Linked DNA regions of Homo sapiens: region 2 is linked to region 1. Evidence: fine-mapped expression QTL. Tissue or cell type: lymphoblastoid cells. Region 1 holds a variant in brackets; the other region holds the start of a gene. All regions are shown on one strand. Distances are from middle to middle.

What was found. PIP is the estimated chance that this variant, and not a neighbour inherited with it, causes the effect.
Region 2: LOXL2 starts here. The variant in region 1 is fine-mapped to the expression of LOXL2 in lymphoblastoid cells (GTEx, PIP 0.95).

The regions. Positions count from the first base shown.
Region 1 is chr8:23,432,900-23,435,658 of GRCh38, forward strand. It overlaps ENTPD4 (ectonucleoside triphosphate diphosphohydrolase 4), which reads right to left. Exons shown (of 13, transcript NM_004901.5): 11 at 2,493-2,578; 12 at 1,418-1,579; 13 at 1-255. The coding sequence ends at 27. Among named protein-coding and RNA genes, the nearest start is that of ENTPD4, 23 kb to the right of the region's middle. The variant AACAG/A (reference allele first, on the strand shown) is at 1,163.
Region 2 is chr8:23,402,865-23,405,623 of GRCh38, forward strand. LOXL2 (lysyl oxidase like 2) reads right to left here and starts at 1,256. Exons shown (of 14, transcript NM_002318.3): 1 at 1,090-1,256.

The DNA of each region.
Region 1 (2,759 bases):
GAGTCTTCGTGGAGCTGTGAGCTGGATCACAAGGTCCCCGGGGCATTCTGGGCGGGAAGGCCCTCCTCCATCCAGAGGGCGGCGGCCGAGCTGCTCCGGGGAGTGCGCCTGTGGATGCGCCGCAGCCGCAGCAGGTACAGCAGGATGGCCAGCAGCACCACCAGGAAGCAGCCAGAGAACAGGTAGTGGTTGTAGACAAAGGAAACGCCCCGCCAGTGGGTGTGACTGGCTCGGAAGGCCTCCTGCTGGATGTCTCTGCCCATGTGAACACCAAACAACAAACAGGACAGTAAGCAAGGAAAGGGGTGGAAAGGGTGCACAGGGGGACGGCGGGACCCAGGCCCCAGAGCTGCACTTTAGGAACTGCAACCCTACCTCTGAAATGGAGAACGGAACAGCCCAATGCAGGGGGCTTCTAAGTATCAGTGAGATAACATGTGAAAGTATACTCTGAAGTCGGTCATTATAATTTGGGCAACCAAAATCAGAGGAATTTAGAAGAGCCGTGAAGGTTTCGCTGATACAAAGAAGTCAACATGTAAACAAACTGCATGCTTGTGATCAGTAACACCCATGACTCACCATTTTTACAGTTAACCCAGTTAAAAGGGTTGCTGAGAAATGCTCAATTAAATGGAGGGGGTGGGGGGAAGAGCAAATGTCTCATCTATCAGGTAACTCAGGTTCTTAGCACAGGTCAACTGACAGCAGATCTGCAAACGTGAATGGGGAAAAACGCACATCTTTGTTCTACCCAAGCGCTGACTGAGATGTAGCATTTCTTTGACCATGAATGCAGACAACAAACTATCATTAGCGTTGGCAGCACCTGCAACTTTGTTACTAACGAAAATCACAGATCTTTCATGTCCCATTATGGTATCATCAATGCCTCAAAATATCATTGACGCTCATTGACTACACTGAAATTACAGAAAGTGCTAATTCTGCTGCCAGATCCTGTTATTTAATGTGTTAATAGAGAAGAACACATATTACAGTATCACAAACTTGTTTTCTGTAATATTTTGGTATTATTTCAATATGATGGTTTCTTCTGTAATCCTATGTATTTATACATGCATTTAAACAGTATTTGGAGAAGAGGCCTGAGTCATAAAGGTTAAGAACCCCGGAACTGACCCTTTTGCCGGGGCTGGGG[AACAG/A]ACAGTTGAGAATAACCAAACACAGGGCAGTAGGACAGGAGTGCTGTGTATTACGGGATGGTAGGGTGAGAAGGGAGGAAGCACTTGTGGGGAGGGGGCAAGACCAAAAGCAAACGTCACTGTCCCTACAATTCTGCCGTGGCCGGCTCTAACAGCAATGCCCCAAACAGCCACAGACCACAGCTGCCATGAGGTGCTGTAACTGCAGAAAAGCATCTTTTTGATTCTCGTTCCCAAATTCACAGCCCTACCTTAATGGTAGAAAGCGGGTCCTGTAGAGGATGGCTCCAAGGGTCCACTGAACCTCCTTGTCGTAAACTTGCAAGGCAGTCTTTAAGCTTTTATAGTTGACAGGAAACGAAAAGCCCCTATGAAACACCTCAAACATCCAGGCCGATTTGAAGCACTGATACCTACAAACGGCAAGCACAAAGGCAAGTCAGACTGACTCACTCTGTCAAGATGGCACACACACACACACACACACAATCCTTCCCTCTGTGGGCAGCCTTGGGGCAGGGGCTTCCTCAGGCCGGCTCTCCCAAACCAACTGCGCGCGTTTCAAGGTTGATGTACTTGCTTCACATCCCTGGTCCCACAACATGGAGCAGTTCACCTGTCAAATCAATCAGTGCATGAACCCGGTCTCGGCATAATGTCATATATCCCTGAGATAGGTTTCTTTTCCAGCTGGCATTTCACCATGTACTCCTTGAATGAATACTGAACAGGTTCCAACCTCTTTGTACCTCAGTTTATTATAAAATGAGATGGTAGGAAGGTTCTCTTCAGCTCTGATATTCTATGACTCTAAATATTTATTAGAGGTTTATTTTTTGCCAAGCACTGTGCTAAGCAAGTAATAAGATACAATAATTAGTAAGATACAGTGTCTGCACTTAAGTGACTTACAATGAAAGGGGATTTTTAAAAAGCAACAGAAAAAGCAGAACATGATAAATGCATTGGCGAGGTAGGATGAATTCTTGAGACTCAGAGAAAGGGATGAAGTCTGATTGAGGGGACAGAGGAAGACTGGAAAGGGACAGCCTCTGGCTGGACTCTGATGTCTGGGCAGGACTTGAACAAGCAAAGGTATGAACAGGGGAATTTCAGGGGTAAGAGACAGTAAAAGTGACCAAAACAAAAAAGATACGGAATATGTCTGGGCACAAGTATTTGTCCCGTTTGAAAGGGGCCCAGGGTAGATGGGAAGAACAGTGAGTGAGAAGAAGCTGGACTGAGGCCAGGGTGTGGCAAGCCAGTGGGGCCAACACTGCATTATGGTTCTTAAGAGTGCCCTGGGCTTGACCTTCTAGTACTTACTTAAGCCTGTGGAGGTCAGCATGAGAGGCGTACAGTCCTCGGTCAAAGCGTTCCCGCAAAATGGACCACTTTGTTGCACAATAATCCTGAAAACAAATTCACCAAAATAGATCACTAGTAAAGGCTTATTAAAATTCTCACTTTAAAAATGGTTTACCAAATTTATATTTGTAACAAGCATATCCTTCCCATTAGGAAACACACAAGCTTAACTTATACAACAAATGGCAAGACACACAAACACTCAGGGAATACTTACTGATTCGC
Region 2 (2,759 bases), 30 kb before region 1:
CACATCTCTCCCCTCATCAGGACTTGGGGTTTCCTAACCATATTGAGTAGTTCAGCCCCCTCCCTCGCCGTGTTCTGCGGTGTTCTCTTCCTCACACCCTCGCCCCGCTCCGCCCCGCACTCCGGCTGTTTTTTGATGGTCTTAGCTCGGGCACGGAGAGGAGGGAACCTCGCTTGTTCTCCCAATCATCTCTATTCCAGCGCTGATTCCTGGGACACCTCGAGCAGGCAGCCACACCCAGAGGGCTTCCAAATTTGGGCTGGTGAGAAGGGGCGCGGTGGGCAAAGCGCCTGCGTAAAAGTTGTAGGCACTTCAGACCACCGGACCAACGGCTCAAGATTGGGATCAGCTGTAGCCGTGGGTTCGCTCGTGCCCGTTCTTTCCAACTCCAGGGCTTCTAGGTGATGAAGGCGGGAGAGGGTCCCTGGTCCCCGGAGAGGCAGGGCGACTTGGGAGTGCATACCTGGCGTGCCGAGAGCGCCTCTGCTCCCGCAGGACTCACGGCGCTCCCGCGCTCCCAACAGCCTTTCGAGCAGGCTGGGGGTTGAACCGGGTTCAAGCAGTGGACGCTACAGCTCCCGGGCGCAGCCCCCGGGGTCCCCGCCCCCACTCCGTCCCAGCCCAGCACGCTCTACATCCCCAAAACCACAGCCCCGAGGGCAGTCACTGTCTCCCGACCCGTCCCCCGCGTGCCCCACTCCTCAAAGCCAGAATTCCGGAGACGCTGTCCCTGGAGCCACGCTGCACTCTCCAAGACGCCCAGCACACACCGAGACTTGACGGGCTCTGTCCCGCCTGATTACGGGCGCTCGGGACGATCCAGGGACCCAGCGCCTCGCTCCCCGGGCGCGCCAGCAGCCGCGCCGCGCCCGGCCCGTACGAGGTGGGGTTGGGCGGGGCCGCCCGGGGCGGCAGGAGGACCCGTTAGCCTGCACGTCCTCGCATCGCTCCCCGCAAGAAGTCTTTGGGAACCCCCAGGCACTGTCGAGAGGCAGCCCCGCGCAGGACGAAGCCTGGAGACCCCATAGGGACGCTCCCGCTTTCTCGCGAACCGCTTCGGGGAGGGGGTGGCGCGGGAAGCGCTCTTACTTGGTTTCAGGGATCCGCAGTGGCCGGGCTGGGACCGCGCTCTCCACGGTGGTCCCCCTCCGCTTCCGCCGCCGCTGAGCCCCTTTCTCGAGCAGAGGGGGCGGCTCTGGTCTCCGATGGCTGGAGAAAGCAAGCACCAAGCGTAGGTAGCCGCGCGCTGGAGTCGCGCGTTTACTCTTTTCCCCCTTACTTTTAACTAGAGGAGGATGGCAAACCCCTCCCCGGACCCACCCCCTTCCCCGAAGGCGGCCGCCGCAGCAGGCCCGGCCTCCGGCCTCTTTTGTTGTAATTCGAGAGCGGCCACTCCCAGGGCCAGAGGGAGCTCCGCGGGGGAGGCCAAGGCCTGCGGGGCAGCCCTTCCCAGGCTCCTCGCGCCCGGGTTTCCGGAGCCTGAGATGCCGGGAAGGGGGCCTTTCCTCGGGAGATTCCTCTACCCTTTCCTCCCTGCAGCCGTCCCAGAATTTAACCCTTCGATGTCCTTATCCACCAGCCTTAGGGCCCGTGCCTTGTCCACCTCCTATCCCGAAAACCCTGGCCCTCCTTGGCACATAATACACGCTCAATTAAAGCTGCCGAATGAAAGTGTTCAGAAACTTGCACCCATCTCGCCTGGGTTTCACCTCCCTTTTCCTGTAGGGGGAAAACCGATCCTGAACCAGTAAATAAACAGCCCCCTTTCGGCCAGCAGATCACGTCTATGGCCTTGGCCAAGCCTCTTCTCCGAGGACTAGTTTTCTTCTTTGTAAATTCAACGCTTTGGATTCCGTGACCTCTGGGGTCCTTCCTGGAATGGTAGGGCTGGGATTAACAAGCCCTGTGCTTGGGGACTGAACAGGACACAGCTAATGCGTGGCCATTGTGCAGAAGGACCTCCTGTGCCTGGCTCTGAGGCTCCGGGTGGGGGATGGGCATGCTGGGAGAGCCCTCTGCACAGAGAGGGCTCCTTAAGCAAGAGCAGGGCTTTGCCAGTCCCAAGGAGGCAGCGAGCTGCAAAACAAGGGACCCCTGTGCAGAAGTAGACTGTCACCTGAAAGGCGGCTCCTTCCTCAGTCCTCTCTTACTCCACTCCCTGAGGAGACAAACCCCTCCCAAATCTCACCTCCAGCCCAGGCTTCTCTCCTAAGCCATGGATATTTAAATCCATTGGCCCCGAAAGACTTTCACCTGGACATTCCCATGGCCGTAGCTAACCTGGCAAGCCCCAAACTTGGCACTGCAACTCACGGTCCACCTTGACTCCTGTGAGCTCTCCCAGGCAGATATGGGGTCTTCTCCGTTGCCTCCTCCTTACCCTCCCCACTGATCAGTCCCTGACTCTGGTGGGCAGTAGAGGGCAAGGGTCAGAGGAAGGGGGTGTAGTTATCAAAGGCAGGAGGAGGGATCTTTGTGGTGGTGGAACTATTCAGTGTCTTGAGATACAGAAAACCACACAGGTGATAAAATTGTATAGAACGTAATACACCCAATAAAATTTCAATTAAAAATTTAAAAAAATCCTCCGTGGCTCCAAGGTCCTCAAAATGTAATCTGAATCCTGGCTGGGTGCGGTGGCTCATGCCTGTAATCCCAGCACTTTGGGAGGCCGAGGCAGGCGGATCACAAGGTCAGGAGATCGAGACCATCCTGGCTAACATGGTGAAACCCCGTCTCTACTAAAAATACAAAAAATT